Homo sapiens: one gene and its partner. Each later gene encodes a partner of the first gene's protein in a complex. Each region holds a gene or a part of one and is shown on either strand. Other genes may lie near its edges. A codon is read from its position in the direction of its gene.

Evidence for each region. Proteins that work in one complex are often made in the same cells at the same time.
Region 2: the proteins of EIF2S1 (region 1) and EIF2B1 are in contact, whole or in part, in a cryo-EM structure (PDB 6K72), measured with the Homo sapiens proteins. Residues at the interface, in NP_004085.1 of Homo sapiens: Ala28, Glu29, Met30, Tyr33, Gly44, Met45, Leu47, Leu48, Arg75, Lys80, Tyr82, Ile83, Asp84, Arg88; in NP_001405.1 of Homo sapiens: Gly39, Thr41 (codon at 7,182), Ile42 (codon at 7,179), Gln43 (codon at 7,176), Gly44 (codon at 7,173), Leu45 (codon at 7,170), Arg46 (codon at 7,167), Ala47 (codon at 7,164), Asn48 (codon at 7,161), Glu70 (codon at 7,095), Arg74 (codon at 7,083), Ser77 (codon at 7,074), Ser80 (codon at 7,065), Leu81 (codon at 7,062), Glu82 (codon at 7,059), Tyr83 (codon at 7,056), Ser84 (codon at 7,053), Asp85 (codon at 6,939), Tyr86 (codon at 6,936), Cys89 (codon at 6,927), Leu305.

What each region holds. Positions count from the first base shown.
Region 1 is NC_000014.9:67,355,872-67,363,532, forward strand, and holds the start of EIF2S1 (eukaryotic translation initiation factor 2 subunit 1), read left to right. Parts: upstream 1-4,456; 5' UTR 4,457-4,585; intron 4,586-7,661. Other genes in the region: ATP6V1D (V-type proton ATPase subunit D), read right to left, coding at 3,787-3,827. UniProt on the Homo sapiens protein: Member of the eIF2 complex that functions in the early steps of protein synthesis by forming a ternary complex with GTP and initiator tRNA. This complex binds to a 40S ribosomal subunit, followed by mRNA binding to form a 43S pre-initiation complex (43S PIC).
Region 2 is NC_000012.12:123,623,347-123,630,963, forward strand, and holds part of EIF2B1 (translation initiation factor eIF2B subunit alpha), read right to left. Parts: intron 7,188-7,617; coding exon 7,051-7,187; intron 6,940-7,050; coding exon 6,823-6,939; intron 3,811-6,822; coding exon 3,698-3,810; intron 3,148-3,697; coding exon 3,079-3,147; intron 1,517-3,078; coding exon 1,441-1,516; intron 1-1,440.

The DNA of each region.
Region 1 (7,661 bases):
CACCGGTAATCCCATATACAAAGAAGGCTAAGGTGAGAGGACTGATTGAGCCCAGGAGGTTGAGGCAGTGAGCTGTGATCATGCCACTGCACTGCAGCCTGGACAACAGAGCAAGACTCGGTCTCAAAAAAACAAGTGTTTGGGTAATAAAATTCAACAATAAGGTTGTATAACCTAGACACAGTATAACCTAGACACAGTGATTTAAGGGGATATAATTTCATATGACTGGTGTTTTAAAATCGCATGTACTAATAAACTTTTTTGGCCAGGTGCAGTGGCTCACACCTGTAATACCAACACTTTGGGAGGCCGAGGCAGGTGGATAACTTGAGGTCAGGAGTTCGAGACCACCCTGGCCAACATAGTGAAACCCCATCTCTACCAAAAAATACAAAAATTAGCTGGGTATGGTGCTGCATCCCTGTGGTCCCAGCTACTCAGGAGTCTGAGGCACAAAAATCACTTGAACCTGGCAGGCAGAGGTTGCAGTGAGCCAAGATCGGGTCACTGCACTCCAGCCTGGGCAACAGAGGGAAAACCTGCCTCAAAAAAACAAAAACAAAAAAAAAAAAACAAAAACAAACAAACACCATTTGGCCAAATTCTTAAATTATACTGGAATCTTTTACCATAGGGCTAAGATCACTAAGACAATTCTATAGCTGAAAGGGACTTTAGACATTAACTTAAAGATTAGAAAAATGAGGCTTAGAAAAGTAAAACAACTTTCTCAAAGTTACTCAGTGAAGAAAAGGCAGGGCAGGGACTTGAACCAGACTTTTGATTCCACTGACTTTCCCAATGCTCAAACTAAGGCTCCAACCTACGTTCACTGTACCCCAAACATGTGCCTCCCCTTAAAGAGAACAATTATCACTGGCTGACTCTGCACTGACTGGTCTCACAAGAGGTCTTATCAAGTGAAGGTCGTTTAGTTTCCAGCCTGAGAAGGAGCTATCCATCTCAATGTGTGCATTTAACATAATGTATTGTTGATAGTAAATACTAGAACTTGGGCTCAAAGAGCTGGATCAAATTTAAGTCAAATTGTAGTACTGCATATTCCAGCCAGTTTATAGTAAAAGGTAAACTGGTTGATAAAATTGAATTTACCATGTTAATTTTATTTTCCTCCTAGGGAATGGCATCTTTGTGAAATGGGCAATTTTAATTCCTGAAACTCTAAGAGCAGCGTGCACACTTACAGCTAATATGTAGCAGAACCTGGATTTAGTGGACTTCTGTTGACTCCAAATTTTTCATGCGTCTTTTACTTCCACTCTACAATTGTTTTTGCTTTCTCTGGTACGAAAGTGGGTGAAAGTAACATCACAGAATAATACTGTTGAATGGAAATGTCTGTGAAACAAGCTGCCAGTATATTTTCTAGCCTATGGCTTTTAAAACTTGCTCCTTTACATGTTTCAGAGCTGCTCAGTCCTACTCAAAAAGTTTGACCTTTAGCTAGGATGATGACTTTTCTTCCAGCTGAATCAAAGACATCTGACTACATGACAAAAAGCCTGCTGCCAGCCATGGGGAAAATATTTAGAGAAGAGATTATTTCCTGCACCTGATTTTCCTCTCAATCAGCAAGCTGAGAGCTTTCAAATAGTAGTTTCACCTTCATGAGCCTATCATTTTCTTACCTAAGCCCAAAGATGTCTATTTTTGCCTCTTAGTCTCAAAGTAAAAGTTTCAAAGTAAAAACAAAAAAGTTATTCTGACTGCTGTCAAAGATAAACCCAGCCAGACATTCGTTAAAGTAGTGAAAACAGATTTTATTCAGTAAACCACTGATAGTAGGGGAAAGGGCTGAGCTCAATTCTCATTTGTGCAGAGGTGACTGGCCATTTTAAAAAAGAGAGTAAGGGAGTGGCAGGGAGCCAGCCGCAAGAAGAGTCAGAGAAGAGAAACCTTAAAGTGTTGGTCAGTGTAAACGCCATACTACCTGGCAATTAGTAAGTTACTATTCTATCCTCTCACACAGACTGGGAGACAAAGCCCCTATCCCTCCTGATGATTACGTTTCAAAGAAATGGCTCTCAAAGATACTTGAAGGGACACTTCAGAGTTGGAAGAGATACATATTAACAATTGTAAGCCTGTTTCGTAAATGCTCTAAAAAGGGAACGAGAGGGGTCTATCAATTAGGTGTTGACTAGAACAAACAGTAAATTCTCCCCCTAGCTTTGAGCTTTTTCAGGCAGGCATTTTAATGGCGGGGGCGGCGGGGGGCGGCCTGGGGTCACCCTAGGGGCAGGCCTTACATTGCTAGAAGATAAACTAGTGTCGATGTCTTTCAGTGCAGAAGTTTTGACTGAGTCATCACGTCCTAGGAGTTCTGCAGTTGTCACTACCTCGGGATAGTCCTCATCTTTATTTCCCCACAACTAGCTTGCTGCCTACTTAGTGCAAACAGCTATTAGAAAGTCAACAGGTGAAGGTAAAAAATTTAAAAACTTCATTTCATTAAGAGCTATTTAGTCACCGGGCAGAAAGAAATCTGGGCTTCAGGTTTGAATATAACTTTTATTTTAAGCATCCTCAGATTCTCTCAAAGGACAGAATGAGGAAAAACAACAAAACACCCCCACAGAGATAGGACCACAATAAAAGGGTCTAAATGTCAGGGTCAAAACTGATTTTCTGCTTCCTCACTGAAAAGAAAAAGGGAAAGCCAGGCGCGGTGGCTCCCATCTATAATCTCAGCCGCCAGGGAGGCTGAGGCCGGAGGATCACTTGAGCCCAGGGGTTTGAGGCTGCTGTGAGCTCTGATCATACCACTGCACCCCAGCCTGGGAGACCCTGTCTCTTATTAAAACAAACAAACAACAAACTAAATAAAAATAAACAGGATGAGGAGGAGAAAGGGAGCAAGTTGTTAGGCACATTTGAGAAAACGTCAAAATTTTCCTTACAAACTAGCCAAACACCTACAGTGATATGCCATTTTCCTGACAAAGAATTCAGGCCCCAAAAGAAAGGCAGCCCACAACTGAGCGTATTCCCAAGCATGAGTTCTTTCAAGAAATATTTTTTTGTGGACCTTCTATGGATTAAGACACTCTTTCATCCTGGAGAGAGCCCACAGTCTAGTGGGAGAGAAAGACACATAAACAAATATCTACTTTACAGCGTGATGACCGGTATTAACACAGGTCTGAACAAGGTGCAGCGGTGAGAGAGCAAAAGCAGTGCCTCAGAAACACAGGGATATCCTCTCACAGCAGGTGACATTTGGCGGGATCTTGGAAAATGAGTAAGGGGATCCAAGATCGAATCCGAGGGCTATGCTAGGGCGATTCGATTCCATCCCCACTTTGGCTTAGGGACCTCTTCTATATCCTCAGTAAACTTCCCTTCTCAGAGCATTTATTAAAACCTCCTTGGCCTTTCCAGACGAATGTCTGGCTACGTAAACTGTGAGCTCTGTAGGGCAGAGGTGGCGACGGTTCAGTTATATAAATCCAGTGCCCGGCTCAATAAGGGTATGTGGAATGGATGAATCCATTAATGAATAAAGACAGCAGACCTCCACAAAAGCCCGCCGGCCGGGCGCCTTTTCCTACCGGCTGGGATCGCTTCGTCCAGCCTGATTCACTCAGGAGGAATGCGCGAAGAGGCCGTCAGGAAGCCTCGCCCTAGACTCAAGAAAAGAACCTGGGAAAAGCTCAGGATCCTCCCAGGAAACAAGGACCCTCACTGTGGCCCAGGGTCTGAAGGGACCGCGCTCCGGGTTCCTAAACCTGTGAAAGCGGCTTATCCCATTCCTTTACTTACATTCGCGAGGGAAAGATTTCAATTCGGTCTTTGCCCGACATTCTGACGATAACTTTTCGGCTCGGGTCCCCGGCCGGGCAACCGAGGCTGCAATAGCTCCAGAACTGGCCTCCACAGTGTCTTCCTCTACGGGAGTCAGCTGGTTGTGTCACTTGACCCCTCTTGTTGCTAAGAGGCAGCAGGGACACCCATTTTCACTTCCGCTTCCGGTTGTCACAGGCGACGAAGGGGGAGGACAGAACAGAGGCGTTGCCCGGATGTCGAGGCGCGCGCACCGCGGAACCACCCCTCAATTCCGGTTCGCCTCCCAACCCCTCCCCATCCAGCTTCCCTGCGGCTGCGCAATACGCGGCACGCGCCAGGCCAAAGACTAGGAGCGAAGCGTGCACGCCTTGTCTTTCTCCACCTTTCGTCTTTGGTCACAGCGCCATCTCATGGTTAGCTGAAACTTTGAAAGAGGATTCATTCTTCAGAGGCAAGGAATCGGAGTCCTATGTCTTTCTCGCGCCTTGAAGGTTACTTAGCTAAAGCTAAGATAGCGAGAAACAGTACTTTTCAGGTCCTTCCATGATCTACATTCGTCCTTGTTCTCGGAGGACCCAGACTCTATGGTTAATGATGAAGAGGGGCCTCTATTCGTTCAGCGCTTGCGCATGCGAGGAGGTTCCGCATGCGCGGTGGAGTGAGCGAAGCGCACGCTGAGGAGGATCGGCGGCCGGTGAGGGGGAAGCAAGTCTGGTCTCTGTGATTGAAGAAGTCGGCTCTGGGCTCCAGTGCGGGAATCACACACATACCTCAGGTGACTAATCCCAAGCTCGGTTTCTCCAGGAACTCACTTTGGTTTGTGTCCAGTGACATGGGTGTTCGAGAGCGGGTAGGCCCCGGGCTAATACCTCCCTTTCCCGTCCCTGCGCGGGAAGTGGCTGGACAGCACCGCCACCACCCGCGCTGTCGTGGGCCTCCTCGCCGGCTCCGTGTAGGTCATCCTGTGTTCCAGAGGCATCGTTGTTCGAGCAGAGGAATCTCGTGAAGGAAAGTGGGCCGAGTGGATTGTACAGCCTCTACAATATGCCGAAAGTGAGAATGCCATGACGATGGGGCGGTCTCAGGAGAACGCTGTGACACCGTAACTCTTAACCCCGGCTCAGGACGCTGAGCACTTTGCTTTTTCCAGGCTTGAGAATTCCATCTTTTCTTCCGCCCCAACAGCTCTACCAAAAATTTCCCCTGCGTCTCAGTGGAAACCAAACTGGCCTCTTACCTGAGAAACCTGTGGGACGGGCACCGTGTTGGAAAGAGCGGGGTCCGAGTAGTTTTTCATCTGATAATTGAATGAGTCACCCCTTGAACCAAAACTAAATGAGACTTGAGTTTATTACTGTTACTATCAGTTTGTCGTATTTTGGCGACAATGAGAATAGAACTGTGTTAAGCATATGTTAGGTTAACTATGTTAGTTAAGCATAACTAAAACCTAAGATAAGGATATATTTTCGGGTTAAATACACAGTCATGCTGAGGTCTCTTTATCCTCAAAACTTAGGCTTTTTAAATTTTTATTAAGCAAAAAACATGGTTTCTTCGAGAAAAAGTATAGCAGAGAAGTCTTTATTTCCCCTCAATTGAGTTGTTATTCAAGGAACAATCTCTGTCAATAGTTTGGGGGTGACTTGTACAGAACTTTGCTACCTATTCTTAGTTCATCTGGTGCCAAAAGATGTAGTTGTCTCATGCACAGTAATGTTTGTAGAGATTCGGTGATAACTTTCTTTTTCAACTATAATGATGAAATAAAAGCTTTACTTATGTAGCACTCCTATACCAAGAACTAGCATTCAGAGAGCATTCCTAATACGTGTTAGATCCAAATTAGAATTATCACGAGAGTTGTCCCCATCACATAATATATTTTGGAAAGGAATGTGAACTTCTATATCCATTATAGCAGTTTGACCATGCACTGTTTTGAGAAAGAAGTCCTACCTACCATTTGTCATGCAAAATAACTGACTATGCAGGGTATTTGAAATTAGCCTGGAGTTTGGTTGATATATTTTGAAAGGTGGCTGATACTTTTTACATCAGAACACATAAGAGTATTATAGCATGTTGTGATATTGAGGTTCTGTGGGTTAAAGACATTCTGGATTTGATGTCGGATTACTTGAGTTTAGCTCCTACGCTAGTACTTATTAAGCATTTGTTCTTAAGGAAGTATTATAATTTAGTATTTCTGTTCCACCTTTCCTGTTCATTGCTTCACTGTGCCCTTTCATAGTACTTTGTATTGTAATTATTTGCTTGCTAGTTTGTTTCCCACTCTATACTTAATTACTTAGGTAAGAGTCTTTTTTTTTTTTCTTTTTTCTTTTTTCTTTTTTTTTTTGAGACAGAGTCTCTGTTGCCCAGGCTGGAGTGTAGTGGCACGATCTCAGCTCACTGTAGCCTCTGCCCCTGGGTTCAAGGGATTCTCCTGCCTCAGCCACTATAGTAGTGGGATTACAGGTGCCTGCCACCACACCCAGCTAATTTTGGTATTTTTAGTAGAAATGGGGTTTCACCATGTTGACCAGGCTGGCCTCGAACTCCTGGTTTCAAGTGATCCACCCGCCTCGGCCTCCCAAAGTGCTGGGATTACAGGTGTGAGCCACTGCGCCTGGCCTGGTAAGAGTCTTTCTTGTTGTATCATTAGTGCTTAGTACATAGTAGCTACTGAAAAAAAAATTAACAAATTATTATATTACAAAATGGAAATACCTTCTTTTTCTTTCAATATTTTATGTTTGACTAGCACATAATGGTTTTCAAAATGTTTTTACGTATACATGTGATACCCTCAGTAAACCTGTGATGTACATGGCACAGATGAGAAACTACAGTTCAAAGGATGTTATCTTTCCCAAGCAGCCACTTCTAGTAAGTAGCAGAGCAAGGACTGGAACACAAGGCTAGAGTTGTTCCCCGAGTTTACTATGTTAATTGCCTGATTTGACACTTCTTGAGGACCAAATAAAATAAGAATGCTGTGAAAAAGATAAAGAGGTGAAGTCACCTAGTGTGACTTCGATATTGCGGAATGATTTTTTTAAGTTAAAAAAAAAATTTAAGTTATTAGCATTTCATTAGGCAATATGTTCAAAAATTGTCAACCAATATGCAGGTTTTTGTGGTATGGATTCTTTTTGTACTTAACTACTATCTATCTTTACTATGAATAACATACCATCAACAGTATTCCTTTACTTACCCTTTATGTTGCAAAGAGACTTGTGCCTCCTGAAGAAATAGTATTCATAGTCATATCCCTTCAGGATTCTCTTACATGATTGCCCATGTTTTTTAACCATCAAATTAAGCCTTGCTTCCCCTAAAAGCATCACCTTTACTGTTTGGAGAAGCTTGGTAAGTAAATGTGGTTTTCACTGGTCAAATGTCTTGCAACTGTTCCATACATTTCTGTAACATAGTTTATTTTTATGCCCAATTTGAAACTTTTTAGCTCTCAAATTTGAGAGCTTTACATACACATATTCAACAACAGTTTCCCCACCCCCACCCTCGAAAAGCCCTGTTTAAAAACGAAACAAACAGTCAGCTGTTTCTTGGTGGGTAAGGCCATTGAATGTCTACTTCTCTTTATTTGCTAAATCCCTATTTTGTAGGGATTTTGTATTCCCTACAAAGAAATACATCTCTGCTACTGTCATTAATATGCTGCTCTTTGTTGTCAAACAGATGAGTACTAATAGTTTGCACTTATTGGTGTTATGTACTCTGGCACTGAATATATATTAATGTTGCTTTTTAAGTAAAATGTTTCTAATTATAATATATTTATGAATAGTTTTGAGAGAATATAGTCTTACTGATAAGAG
Region 2 (7,617 bases), on another chromosome or scaffold:
TTGCACTCCAGCCTGGACAGCAAGAGTGAAACTCCATCTCAAAAAATAAAAAAATTTAAAAAAACAAGTGTTGGCAAGGATGTAGAGAAATTGGAACCTTTGTGCTTTGCTAGTGGGAATGTAAAGTAGTGCAGCTGCTGTGGAAAATCATTAGTTTCTGAAAGTTAAATATATAGTTACCATGTGACTCAACACTCTGCCTGCAGACCTCCGCCTCCCAGGTTCAAGCGATTCTCCTGCGTCAGCCTGCCAAGTAGCTGGGATTACAGGCACCCGCCACCATGCCCAGCTAATTTTTTGTATTTTTAGTAGATATGGGGTTTCACCATGTTGGCCAGGCTGGTCTCGAACTCCTGACCTCAGATGATCTACCTGCCTCAGCCTCCCAAAGTGCTGGGATTATAGGCGTGAGCTACTACGCCCGGCCTTATGTTACATATATTTTAACTAAAAAAAGCTTTCATGAAGCTTTTCTAAATTAAATAATGGAGAGAGAGATTGTAATAAATTGAGGTCAAATGTGCTCAATTAAAATGAAAACAAATGACAGGCCGGCCACAGTGGCTCATGCCTGTAATCCTAGCACTTTGGGAAGTGGAAAGATTGCTTCAGGCTAGGAGTTCAAGACTGCAGTAAGCTATGATCACTGTACTACACTACAGCCTGGGCAACAGAGTGAATGTGTCTCTATTTTAAAATATATATAATATTTATATATAAATACACGTATTTTATACATACATACTTTATATGTAAATATATAAATAATATTTTAAAAATATTTGTGTATATATATTATGTGTGTGTATATATATGCATAAATAAAACATACATATACACATAAATAAAGCAAAAACCAGACAAACCCCAATTCCAATTCAAGCCAATTTTGTATAAATATAAATTACACTTTTTTTTTTTTTTTTTTTACTGAGACAGGGTCTCACCATCGCCCAGGCTGGAATGCAGTAGTGTGATCATAACTTACTGCAACCTCAAATTCCTGGGCTCACGTGATACTCCTGCCTCAGCTTCCTGGGCAGCTGGAACTACAGGCAAGCACCACCACGCCCAGCTAATTTTTCTAATTTTTTGTAGAGACAGGGTTTCACTATGTTGCCCAGGCTGGTCTTGAACTCAAGGCCTCAAGTGATCCTCCCACCCTGGCCTCTCAAATTGCTAGGATTACAGGTATAAGGCATCACACCTGACCAAATTACATTGTCTTCATTTATGTAGATCAATCTAAAAAAGATTTGACTGAAACTGGACTGCCCATTGCTATGACTTACGGGAAATGGGCAACAACTCAATACCATGATGAAGTCCTGAAGTGAAGCAGGATTAGAAGGAACCATAATCAACACTGCTGTGGTGTCCTAGGTCAGCAAGACACCTCCAAGTCTTGAGCAGGGAACTGGGGAGAACTGATGCTCTTACCTTGTTAATAATTCCTCCGTTTTCAACAACTCCTTCAGCACCAACTATGACAAGATCTGCTTTCTCCATGATGTAGCTAAGGGGAAAAAAAGCTTTTCATGCTTTATTTTCTTGGCTCTAACGAGTAGCATCATCATCTGCAAAGATCAATATTCCATTTCTATCAAGGTAAGTTCCTCCCATAACTACCTGTTTTTTTTAAAGCGCACTTAACACGCGATAGACCCCTGGCATTGTTACCAGGGGTGTTTTCTGGTCATGACCCTACAATGAGACATACACTTCACACTGCCGCCCGGCGCATGCACACGTACATATGTGTGTAAGTGAAGCAAGAATGTCCTGACACAGCAGTCTTCCTTCCAAGTGTGGTATCCTCTACTTTCTTTTCTACTTCAGCACAAACCAAACAAAATTTTAAAATCTGATGAGATCTGAAGTTGGACAAAAGTGTTATGCAGTTTTAAAAATCTTTCTTTTTTTTTTTGAGACCAGATCTCACTCTGTTGCCCAGGCTAGAGTGCAGTGGCATGATCTCAGCCCAAACCTCTACCTCTTAGGCTCAAGCGATCCTCCCATTTCAGCCTCCCAGGTAGCTGGGACCACAGCATATGCCACCATGCCCTAGAGATGGGGTTTCGCCATATTGCCCAGGCTGGTCTCCAACTCCTGAACTCTAGCGATCCACCTGCCTCAGGTATGAGCCACTGTGCCCAACCTTAAGAATCTTTCTGGTAGGATGAAGGCCAATTTAGTCTTTAAAATGAGCAATTAGTAGAATTCCTCAAAATCCTTACTTTTGAACACATTCCTAATTTCCTTAATCATCTATCTTGTTTTCATTCCAAGAGATCACTACTCTTGTTTTTTCTTGGGAAATACACTGACAATCCCAGGAACATGTGACTTGGCTTTGCGACACAAGCTGCATCTTCTAGGTGAGACAAAGCATCCCAGTATGCCACTGAGGACAGCCAGGTCTTCACAGAAATACAGAGCCCTGATTACCCTCTGCTGATCCCAACTGACCTTTGTACTTTGCTCTTAAAATGCATTTGCACTGGCTGGGCGTGGTGGCTCACGCCTGTAATCCCAGCACTTTGGGAGGCCAAGGCGGGCAGATCACCTGAGTTCAGGAGTTCGAGACCAGCCTGGCCAACATGGTGAAACCCCATCTCTACTAAAAATATAAAAGAATTAACGTGGCATGGTGGCATGCGCCGGTAATCCCAGCTACTTAGGAGGCTGAGGCAGGAGAATCGCTTGAACCTGGGAGGTGGAGATTGCAGTGAACCAAGATCATGCCATTGCACTCCAGCCTGGGCAACAGGGCAAGACTCCATCTCAAAAAAACAAAAAACAAACAAACAAAAACAACAACAACAACAAACTCAACACTTACAGCCATAAAGCTATAGACACAACTCCCACTCTCCCCAACATCCTACAGCTCTGTCTTCTTTGTATGCTATCACAACCTCATAACAAGCTTGCTGGTTTAGGGCAGCTATTAATTAAGAAGTAGGACGCTACCTGGTGTGGCTTTATGAACGGGACTCAAACTTTCAATCTGAAAACTTGCTGTAAGCCAGCATGGGGTGGGGGAGGTGATTATGGCTGGGGAAGATGGGCACTCACCCGACAGCAGCATCTAGCACCACAGTGACAGGGACGTTGAGGTGGCAGAGGGCTTTGGCCATTTTCTTACTGAAGATGACATTTTGAGAACGTTAGAGAAAGTACAAGACAGTACCACAGTGATGTATGTCACCTAATGTGGACAGTGGATGTTTGCTTGAAACTCACATTAATACTAATGGGTTAAGGGGCAGATCCCAATACTTTGGACTAAGGAAACAAGAATTTGAGTTCTTTAGAAAGAAGTATTTTTGGAAAACTATACTCTTAGACTCTGGGTAAGAGATGTAAATTCAGGAAAAAAGGAGGAAGTTTTGCTTTGATTATCGTCTAGAGAGAGGGAGATATAAGTTACCTATTCCTTGATAAAAATCTTCATCAATACAATCTCTGCTCTTCCACGGAGTTAACTACTTAAGTGAAACCCCTAGATCATATACTGCGGCCTGCTGCAAATTCAGTGATTTTTCTTCCAAAGGCAGGAAAAGGTACAATGAAAGGCAGTGCTGACTGCTGGCAAGCTGGGGGCACATTCTGGTTCTGATCCTGTTGGACTGTAATCCGCAGTTTGCTCTGTAAAATTATGGCTGGGCACATAACTGAACAGAAAGGTACTTGCCCTGACAAATCAGGCTGTGACTCTGTGACGTATACACTAAATCGCTTCTTGGCCGCCACGGCTGCTTCCAGGACTCTCAGGACCACTCTGGAGTAGGCGTGAGTCAATATTGTCTGTGGACCGAGAAAGCTTTGTCAAAGGGGCAGGCTCCTTGCTGCTCACTCACACCCTCTGCACTGCGGCACGTGTTCCCGACACCCTAAGCATCTCTGTACACTTTCTCACAAATCAACCACAACCAGAAAGGAGACCTGATGGTACAGTTTCCATCCCATGTGCAAGCTAAAAAAGTTTCTGCCAGGTCTCACATCCTGTAGCAGGTGCAGAAATGGAACTCCCACACAGTGTTACCCAAAGGATACAAAAGCCTGGATAGCTGAAGGCTCCATGAGGTTCCCTTGGGTTGGTTTTCCTATTTCTAAGACATGGTTTGCACACGCAGGCCTACAGGAACCAAGTAGGTAGCAGAAGTCACTGCAGCAGGTTGGGTGGGGCCAGCAGCAAAGCGAAAGGCTACAGAAGGCTGGGTGTGGTGGCTCACGCCTGTAATCCCAGCATTTTGGGAGGCCAAGGTGAGAGGACTGCCTGAGCCCAGGAGTTCAAAACCAGTCTGGGCAACTTGGCAAGACCTCATCTCTACAAAAAATAACAACAAAAAAAATTAGCTGGATGCAGTGGCATGTGCCTATAGTCCCAGCTACTTGGGAGGCCGAGGTGGGAGGATCACTTGAGCCTGGGAGGTTGAGGCTGCAGTGAGCCATAATCATGCCAGTGCACTCTAGTCTGGGCAAGAGAGTGAGACTCTGTCTCAAAAAGAAAAGGCTAAGGAGGGCCAGGACTCCTCAGCCCCAGCTGGCGTCATGTGGCCCCAAGATTGCCAGACCAGGTGATGTTTCAAAAATCCAATTTTGAAATGATGGCTAACTAATTTTTTTGAATTTATAAACACTGTTTGGGGTAATCACAACCTATCTGTGGCGTGGATGCAATGTGTAGACACTTAGACATAATCTGTTTTCTTTTCTTTCTTGAGCCAAGGTCTTGCTCTGATGCCTAGGCTGGAGTGCAGTGCAGTGTTCATGGCTCACTGTAGCCTCGACATCCTGGGCTCAAACGATCCTCCCACCTCAGCCACCCCAGTAGCTGGGACTACAGATGTGCGCCACTGTGACTAGCTAATTTATTTTATTTTTTGTAGAGACAGGGCCTCTCTCCCTATGTTGCTCAGGCTAGTGTTGAATTCCTGGCCTCAAGGGAACCTCCGGCTAGGATTATACACATAAGCCACCACAGTAGGCCCATAACCTCTTTTTTTTTTTTTTTTTTTTTTTTTGGTGAGACAGGATCTCACTCCAATTGCCCAGGCTGAAGTGCAGTGGTATGATCTCAGCTCACTGCAGCCTCAACTTCCTGGGTTCAGGTGATTCTCCCACCTGAGCCTCCCAAGTAGCTGGGACCACAGGAGTGTGCCACCACGCCTGGCTAACTTTTTGTATTTTTAGTAGAGATGAAGTTTTGCCATGTTGCCCGGGCTGGTCTTGAACTCCTGGACTCAAGCAATCTGCGTGTCTTGGCTTTCCAAAGTGCTGGGATTACAGGCATGAGCCACCATGCCCAGCCTCCATAACCTCTTTTCTATGGAAGAGTGCAGAAGACAGAATAAGACAAGGGGGCAGAACCAGCTCTCTAGCTCCTTTCTGGGTCTCACCTGAGAACCCGTTAGGAAGGCAGGTTCGTGGACCCTAGCCCAAACCCACTGAATCCCGATCTGCATTTAATAAGACCCCAGCTGACTCCTCTGCATGTGCAAATCTGAGCAGCTCTGCTATAAATTTTGTCTAAATCAGTCCTGAGTAGGTGACTGCAGGTAAAGTACATACATACCACACTACACTAGAGCAAACGAAACCCGCACAATACTGACGGCACAGCAGGTCTGTGGAAGGAGAAGGCCCCAGCGAGAGGAAGTCACAACCTTGCCTCCACTTGCCCAAAAAAGGCTTCGTTTGCAACTGGCTTTTCTACAAGTTTCACTCACATCTATTATGCCATTTATTTAATAACATACTTCAAAGGTTGGGAAGGGGCTAATAAAATGGAGGACAAGATTTAAGAGTCAAAATGCAAGTAAATGATTTTATGATCAGGGGAGGCCTAGGTGGCAAAAGGACGTATGCTGGTGGGAGGGGCATTATGATAGTTTCATTACACCTTTACTGGAAGATGGTTCAACTTGCACCTCCTGTCTTTCCTCACTTATAAACACTGCGTGGCTTTACATCTCTGTAATAGCATCTAAAATGAAGTTAAAAAGAAAATTTCCCTCAATTTCCCTCTATTGCTAACCTTCACTAAGAAAGTCCTCAGTGTTAACCAGTGACAAGAGCTGTTCTGTTAATTCAGATTTACTACACATACAATCATAAAAATACTTCTTTAGTAAAACACTGTATTAAATCAAGAATCAGGGCCAGGTGCGGTGGCTCACGCCTGTAATCCCAGCACTTTGGGAGGCCGAAGCGGGTGGATCACAAGGTCAGGAGATCGAGACCATCCTGGCTAACACAGTGAAACCCCGTCTCTACTAAAAATAAAAAAAATTAGCTGGGCTTGCTGGTGGGCACCTGTAGTCCCAGCTACTCGGGAGGCTGAGGCAGGAGAATGGTGTGAACCCAGGAGGCGGAGCTTGCAGTGAGCTGAGATCGCGCCACTGCACTCCAGCCTGGGTGACAGAGCAAGACTCCGTCTCAAAATAAATAAATAAATAAATAAAATAAATCAAGAATCACACGTGCTGTCCCACTGTCCCTCTCTGCCTGTTTACAATGACAACCATCTCTAATAACAAGACCTACATTCATGCAGCACTTACTAAGTGCCAGGCACAATACCAAGCCCTCACACCCCTTGCCCCTTACATGTCTTGCCTCATTTAATCCTCACAACAACCCAAGGAGGTAGGTACTATTGTCATCCTTATTTAACAGATGAGAAAGCTGCACAGACAGGTTAAGTTACTTGTTCAAGTCTCCACAGCAAGTGAGTGGCAGAGCCCGGATTTTACCCCAGGCAGTCGGACTCGAAACCGTTGCTCCTCCTTACCACCATGATGATTATCCACTCACCGCTCCATCTTTGATGAAAGTATGGCACAGATCTGCAATTTTGTTTCTTGACAGTGATATTCTCCTGAGAAAAAGTTCTCCCCGCTCAATCATGATCTTTTTACATTTGGAGTAATCCTAGGAAGAAAAGAGCAAACTGAGGGGACAGGGAAGATCCAGTTAATGCTGAGAATGTCTGTCACTAAACAGAGAAGTGGAAAGGTAACCCCAGGGAGAACAGGCACTTACGGAGTATTCCAGGGAGGCAAGACTGATGAAGCGGAGGAAGAGCTCCCCGCCAGAGGACACTGCCACAGAGGAGTCCACACCACACAGGGTTTCTATGGCACTGGTGAGATTCGCCCTCAGACCCTGGATTGTCTCCCCTGGAATGATCCAACAAGGAATGTGATGTTCACATTAGGGCCACAGCCCCGACCTGTATCTTCAATTCATTCATTCATTCAGTGAATATTTACTAGGTACATACTATATACCAGGCACTATTCTAGATGCTAGGGATACATCAGTGAACAAGACAGGTAGGGTTCTGCTGTGATGGAGTTTTGATTGTAATAGAGGAAGCGGATAGTAAACAAGCACACATAGAAATAAAGCTGGGTGGCTGGGCATGGTGGCTCACGCCTGTAATCTCAGCACTTTGGGAGGCTGAGGCATGGAAAGACATTAAGTAGCAGCGGCAGATGAGGTCTGCAAGGTGGTATGGGTGAGGCTAAGGTTGTTTGGATGTTATTTTAAGAACAATGGGAAGACACTGGAGGTTGCCTTAAAGACATGTGTCTCTAGGCAAGCCCT